Homo sapiens: one gene and its partner. The protein of the gene in region 1 purifies or fractionates together with the protein of each later gene. This does not show direct contact. Each region holds a gene or a part of one and is shown on either strand. Other genes may lie near its edges.

Region 1 (3,923 bases):
CCATGGACTCGTACCAGTCTGTGGCCTGTTAGGAACCAGGCTGCAAGCAGAAGGTGAGCGGCGGGTTAGCGAGCGAAGCTTCCTCTGTGTTTACAGCCATTCCCCATCACTACTCGCATTACCACCTGAGCTCTGCCTCCTGTCAGATCAGCGGTGGCATTAGAGTCTCATAAGAGTGTGAACCCTATTGTGAACTGCATATGCAAGGGATCTAGGTTGCATGCTCCTTATGAGAATCTAAGGCTTGATGATCTGTCACTGTCTCCCATCATCCCCAGATGGGACAGTCTAGTTGCAGGAAAACAAGCTCAGGGCTCCCATTGATTCTACATTATAGTGAGTTGTGTAATTATTTCATTATATATATTATATATTGCAATGTAATAATATAAATAAAGTACACAATAAATGTAATGCACTTCAATCATCCTGAATCCATCCCCACCCCCCCAGTCCGTGGAGAAATTGTCTTCCATGAAATCAGTCCCTTGTTCCTGAAAGGTTGGGGACTGCTGGTTATTCAGGTTGCAGCTTGGTCTTTTCTGACAACACATCTTAAAGAAACCTTCCAGTCCTTCCTTAGCACATGAGCCGGTTTTATTTTTATTGTGGTTCTCATCTCTGAATGGTGTACAAACACCATTGGTTATCTGTTCAATACTCATCCCTCTTTCTTTTTTGCTAAAGAATCCTGATTTTGTTTGCAGTGACAGTACCCACCAAATACTCGCTTTTCTAGCCTCCTATTTCTTTAGAAATAGTTTGGTGTAAGTGAAATATAAGTGGGTGTGTGCTGGAAGTTTCTGGGAAGGCTTTTGCTCTCCTGCTGTAATGGGATGTAGATGCAGTGCTGTCCTCTTACATCTACCTGCCCCTTCCTTGAATTTAAACTAAACACTTGGGGTTTCAACAGTCCTATTTGATTCAGAGAGAAAGGCCAAGAGAATTGTAGAAGCTGTTCATCTGACATCAATTAATCAAAGTAGCAATGTCAGGCTGGTGAAAACAGTTCGTATTATTTGACATTGTTGTTATTGTTTTCTATTATTTCTTTCTTTGTCACTTGCAACAAAATCATTCCTAATTAATGTAAATGTTGTTGCCATTGATAGTAGGAGGAAGAAATGGAAATTTTATGATCAATTTAAGTTGATGTTGCAGTCATGCCTCCACTGACTACTGTTGGAGGTGGTAGTGGTTACACCAGAACAAAACTACCTATGCTTAGATCCTGACTGTGTCAGTTACTAGTTGTGTGACCTTATACGAGTCACCTAACCCCTCAATATTTCAGTTCTCCCATCTGCAAAAACATGGATGATAAGCCTAGCAGAGAAATTGTTGAGACAGATAGTAGGTAATATTAAGGAAGAGAATATAGAAGGAGTGAATGTAGACAGAAGATAAAGGAACAGTTGATTTTTATCTGCATTTTGGGATGTGGAAATAAGTAGAATCAATGAAGGAGGAGATAGAGAAGAAATCGTTCAGAAAATAGAAGGAAAAACAGGAAAGCAAAATATCTCAGAAATCAGGGAAATGGTATTTTAAGAAAGAAATACTCAGCAGTGTTGATTGCAGTAGAAATAATAGGAACTAATAACAGGCCTTTTTATTTGAGGGCTAGAAGAAAGTATTTTTTTAAGAGAGTGTTTTAAGTACAGTGAGGGGTAAAAGTTGGATACAAGGATTTAAGATTGTGTAGTGAGGAAATAGGATAGTTAACATCACTTGCACACTTAGTTCGACTATATGAGCTCTTGTAACAAAAAACAGGAATATATTTTTCCATGTATACTCTTTTTTATATACAGTCATACATTGCTTAATGATGGGGATACATTCTGATAAATGTGTTGTTAGGTGATTTCATTGTTGTGCGAACATAATTGAATGTACTTGCATAAACCTGGATTTGTGTAGCCTACTGCACACCTAGGCTGTGTGGATGGGTTGAGTATCCCTAATCTGAAAATCTGAAATCCAAAATGCTTCAGAATTCAAAACATTTTGAGTGCTGATATGATACTAAAAGGAAATGCTGTTTGGGACATTTAGGATTTCAGATTTTGGATTTTTGGATTTTCAGCTTTGGGATGCTGAACCAGTAAGTATATATAATGCAAATATTTCAAAATCTGAAAAAAATCCAAAATGGAAACACTTCCGTCCTAAGCATTTCAGGTAAGGAATATTCAAACTGTATAGCCTGTTGCTCCTGGACTACAAATCTGTACAGCATGTTACTGTACTGAATACTAGAGGCAATTATAACACAATGGTAAGTATTTGTGTATCTAAATGTATCTAAACATAGAAAAGATATTATAAAAAGATGGTATAAAAAATAAAAAATGGTGTACCTGTGTAGGGAATTTACCATGAATGGCACCTGCAGGACTGGAGGTTGCTCTGGGTGAATTAGTGAGTCTGTGGTGAGTGAATGTGAAGGCCTAGGACACTACTGTACACTACAATAGACTTTATAAACACTGTACACTTAGGCTACACTAAATTTATGAGAAAACATATTTCTTCAATAATAAATTAACCATATCTTTCTGTAACTTTTTTTTTTCTTTTGAGATGGAGTCTCGCTCTGTCGCCAGGCTGGAGTGCAGTGGTGCAATCTTGACTGACTGCAACCTCCGCCTCCCAGGTTCAAGCAATTCTCTGCCTCAGCCTCCTGAGTAGCTGGGATTACAGGCGCCCACCACCACACCTGGCTAATTTTTGTATTTTTAGTAGAGATGGGGTTTCACCATCTTACTGTAACTTTTTAACTTTATAAAGTTTTAAATTATTTTTAGCTTTTTGACTGTTTTATAAGCACTTAGTTTAAAACACAAACACATTGTACAGCTCTACAAAGATATTTTCTTTCTATTCTTATTCTATAAGATTTTTTCTATTTTTAAAATTTATTCTTTTCCTTTTAAACTTTTTTGTTAAAAATGAAAACACAAACATACACATTAGTTTAGGCCTACCCAGGGTCAGGATCATCAATACCACTATCTTCTACCCCTACATCTTGTCCCACTAGAAGGTCTCCAGGGATGGTAACACACATGCAGCTGTCATCTCCTATGATAACAGTGCCTTCTTCTGCAGTGCCTCCTAAAGCACCTGCCTGAGGCTGTTCTACAGGTAATTTCTTTTTAAAAAAGTAAAATGAGTACACTCTAAAATAATAAAAAATTGTATAGTAAATACTTAAACCACTAAGTCATTTATTATCAAATATTATGTACTGTACATAATTTTATCTGCCATACAATCAGTTTGTTTACACCAGCATCACTACAAACTTGTGAATAATGCATTGTGGAATGACATTATGACAGCTGTGACAACACTAGGTGATAGGAATTTTTCAGCTGCATTATTATCTTATAGGACCACTGTTGTATGTGGTCCTTGTTGACTGAAATGTTATTCTGTGGCACATGACTGTACTATTTACATAACTATATATTTTACATTTATACATATTACTGAACAGTGTTACATCCACAAGATTATGCATATCACCCTTTAAACAATTTAAAGACTTGTTAAAGGTGATTTTTGACAGTGCTTGATTTTGCAGTATGGGCTGACTTTAGAGCTTAACCCCTACATAGGGTATAGCTCTAGTGTGGTGAATATATGCTACATAGATATACACTGCCCTGTACTGGGGAATAATTTTACATATATGGTGGCAGGGACTAGTGGAAAAAGTTTTGGCTTGAGGAGAAGTGATCATCTCCTGGTTCTATTTCTGTCCTACCAACTACTAGCTTTATTATGGTATACATTGCTTAACTTCTGTCCTCCAGCTTTTTCCTTTGTAAATTCTGAAACCTGTCAACTCAGTACTTAGGAAAGGTGTGATAAAATATTTGATCTCCTGAAATGTATGCTTTGCCTTTTAGCTA
Region 2 (3,923 bases), on another chromosome or scaffold:
TGGATGAGACCTACCAAATGTCAGGCAGGTATGTGCCCTACATGAGGTATCCCCATGGTGCTTTGCTAGGCCCTGACCAGCTTCACTTGACCTTCTTTTTTCCCTTTTTGCCAGTCTTCTGCTTTGCCACTTCTTCCCAAACTACTAGGTTTTCCTAAAATTCTGGTTTGTCATGGGCCAGGGTCCTGAAGACCAAGTTTTGGGCAGAATGTGAGCACAAACAGCCCTGAAGAAGCCTGGGCAGCAGCAGCTCCTTGAGAGGACCCTGCTGACTCTCCTTTCAGTCCTATTTTTAGAGCAGTGGGCCTTCTGTTCAGTGAAATCTCACAGAGGAACCAGCCTGGGCTCAGGATGTGCAAAAGCCCCATACGAGGCTCACAGAAGGGACTGCATTTGCTTGGGGTAACCCAATAGGACAGTGTTACTGGGAATCAGACTCAGGCCTCTGGGGACACCGTGAAGAATCTGGTCCCAGGCCTACTGCAGGGCACAACACATGGGGGAAGCCTCCAAAAGTCACTAGCTATGTGAACATACATGATTCTACAGGCCTATGGACTTGACATGGTTATGCCAAGTAAAACCTGCTATAAAACAATATTGTGAAGAAGCCTGTTTTTTTTTGTTTGTTTGTTTTTTGTTTTGAGATAAGCTGGCATGTAGTGGTGTGGTGATCACAGCTTACTGAAGCCTCCACCTCCTGGGCTCAAGTGATTCTCCCACCTCAGCCTCCCGAGTAGCTGGAACTACAGGTGCATGCCACCATGCCCGGCTATTTTTAAAGTGCTTCTGTAGAGGTCTCGCTTTGTTGCCCAGGCTGATCTCAAACTCCTGGCCTCAAGCAATCCTCTCACCTTGGCCTCCAAAAGTGCTGGGATTACAGGCATGAACCTCCAAGCCTGGCCCAGAAGCCTGATATGTTAAAAAACTAAGATAGGCTGCTGCCTCTGAGATGACCTCTGAGGCACTGGGGGAGATGACCCAGGGCTGTCGGGAGCACTGGCCAAACCAACAGAGAGAGACTGCAGGCCTCCAAGCTGACTGGTGAGAGAGGGAAAGTGATGTTAGAAAGATGATCTGGTTTCAGTGTGTGTGATCACTGCAGGGAGAAGAAAGAAATGGCAGAAACATACAGATGGAGGCCAGGCAAAAGGGAAGGAAATGGAAACACAGAACAGAGATGGCTACAAGCAATACCGAGAAGGATGACCTGTCCTCACATGGACGCAGGGAATTAAGAAGGTGGACGGGCTCAAGGAGCCACTGAGGTTGAGCCCAGGGAACTGGCAGGATGGTCACAGGACACACAGAGCAGGGGGACTGACAGGGGAGCTCCGGGAGAGTGGCAGGTGTGGAGGAGGAGATAGGACAGCTGGACCTGAGCCATGCTGGGGGAGATGTTTCAGAGGCAGCTGAATCAGGAGTTAACTGCTGCCAGGGTGGAGAATTGGATGAGGGTTCCCAAAGCAACAATGACAGGGATGTGGGGACAGAAGAGATCTCTAAATAAAAGAACAGGGGGAAATTCTTTTGTTGTAAAAGCCAACTCCATCTACTCACCATGCAGGTATGGTGAGACAAGTCAGTCATCTCAGATCAACCCACCCAGCATCCAGGTCCTATCCACCAATCTGAGAACAGGGCACAGGGAGGCTGCCAGGGCCCTGTCACATGGGGTGGCACCTCCACATGCCCCCGAACAGGTTGGTTTTCCTGTGACTTGAGTTGTTTTTTTTTAATTGCGTCAAACCTGCTCTCATGGGAAGAAAGGTCAGAATGATGAACTTAGCATAGCATTTTGTTTCACTTTTAAGAAATGTGGGAAGAGGTGACTGTCAACTCCTATCAGGCCTCTGCCTGATAGCTCAAAGGCACCTGCAGGCCCAGTCCCGTGTAACTGCACCCACACCACTGAGAATAATCATCCAAAACATAAGTCACACTGTCAAAGCCTCAGAAAACTTTTTGAATTCTGCAGGAAAACAAGTACTTAAAGTTCAATAACAGGTTGGGTACAGAGGCTCACACCTGTAATCCCAGAACTTTGGGAAGCCAAGGTGGGAGTATCACCTGAGGCCAGGAGCTTGAGACCAGCCTGGGCAACATAACAAGGCCCCATTCCTATAAAAAAATATATATATATATAATATCAGCTAGGCACAATGGCACGCATCTTTAGTCCCAGCTACTCAGAAGGCTGAGGCGGGAGGACCACTTGAGCCTAGGAGGTGGAGGCTACAGTGAACTATGATCATGCCATTGCATTACAGCCTGGGTAACAGAGTGAGACCCTGTCTTTAAAAAAAAAAAAAAAATAGGCCAGGCGCAGTGGCTCACACCTGTAATCGCAACACTTTGGAAGGCTGAGGTGGATCACTTGAGGCCAGGGGTTCAAGACTAGCCTAAGCAACAAAGCAAGCCTCTATCTCTATAAAAATAATTTAAAAATTAGCCAGGTGTAGTGGCACATGCCTATAGGTCCTAGCTATTTGGGAGGCTGAGGCAGAAGGATTGCTGGAGCCCAGGAGGTTGAGGCTGCAGTGAGCTGTGATCGTGCCACTGCACTCCAGCCTGGGCAAGAGAGAGAGAGCTTGTCTCCAATAAATTGAATGAGTGGATGGATGGATGGGTGGATGGATGGATGGATGGATGGATGGATGGATGCATGCATGGATGGATGGATGGATGGATGGATGCCTGCCACCATGGATGGATGCATGCATGGATGGATGGATAGATGGATGGATGGATGGATGGATGGATGGATGGATGGATGGATGCATGCATGCATGGATGGATGGATGGATGCGTGCATGCATGGATGGATGGATGGATGGACAGACAAATAGATAGATAAAGTTCAGTAACAAAACACATAAGTTTTCAAGAGACTGAAGTGGCCCAGTGAGGGGACAGGCAGGAAGGGCCCTGGCAGCAATGCTGGTGGATGCTCCCCATTGCCAGACCCCAGAGCACACAGGACGTCCACATGCAGCCTCGGGTCAGCCTACCTGCTTATGTGCAGGATGCTTTCAATGACAGGGAGACTCAGACAGTGGGGAAACAACCAGCAATAGAGAAGAGGGCAAAGGCAGAGGCCTGGGGTGTCTAGAGCGGCTCTGCTTGAGCTCCAGGAACAACTCCAGAGTCTTCCCCACTTCATGGCCTTCGTCACTGCTTGGTCTCCTCACATTCCTGACCCATCTTCAAGCCAATGCTAGTGCCCGGCAGGCATCATGGGCATCTCAGGGAACCCCACCTGGGTGTGGGTCTGCCTTGCTAGATGAGACATGCCTCACCTGAAGCTGGCAGGCAGCCACCAGTGTCTCTTGTACATTGCTCAGGCTGAGCTCCAGCTCGGAGGTGTATATGAAATGTAGGATTTGGCACATAGCATTGTAGGACACACCGTGGATCAGGACCTCTTCCTGTTCCATCTCCTTCAATCCCCCAGCAAACATTCCTCTGCAAAGTGAAGACACAAGAAAATGGAGTTATACCAACAGGGACTTAAGCCCATGTTGCCAAGAGTGACAGCATTCAGAGAAGAACCTGGCGCTGGTGGCAGGGCCCTGGTAGTGGGCTGACCCACTCTGTGCTCTGAGTGAACTGTGTGCATGCATGAGCCATCCCACAAAAGGATCCTGACGAAGTCTGGGCAGCCATCCTGGAAATTGTCCTGTTTCCCTTTTCATGGGCCCAAGGAGTCCCATGTGAGCTTCGGGAGGTGAGGCCACAAGCAGCTTGCTTCTGCTGTGTTCATCAGTGCAGTTCCTGGATCGGAGCAGTAGCAACTCCAGAGCACATTTCAAAGCAATGAATTAATTAATGGGAAACTAATAAAAGTCATTTCATTCAATGTATATTTATGGAGTTCCTACCAAATGCCAAGTATCATTCAAAGAGCAGAAGGAGGCCAGGCA

What was found.
Region 2: the proteins of ATG4C (region 1) and KLHL22 purify together in Homo sapiens (affinity purification with mass spectrometry; 2 studies listed by BioGRID and IntAct, with this or other methods). This does not show direct contact.

What each region holds. Positions count from the first base shown.
Region 1 is NC_000001.11:62,857,132-62,861,054, forward strand, and holds part of ATG4C (cysteine protease ATG4C), read left to right. Parts: intron 1-3,923. UniProt on the Homo sapiens protein: Cysteine protease that plays a key role in autophagy by mediating both proteolytic activation and delipidation of ATG8 family proteins.
Region 2 is NC_000022.11:20,468,051-20,471,973, forward strand, and holds part of KLHL22 (kelch-like protein 22), read right to left. Parts: intron 3,466-3,923; coding exon 3,300-3,465; intron 1-3,299. UniProt on the Homo sapiens protein: Substrate-specific adapter of a BCR (BTB-CUL3-RBX1) E3 ubiquitin ligase complex required for chromosome alignment and localization of PLK1 at kinetochores.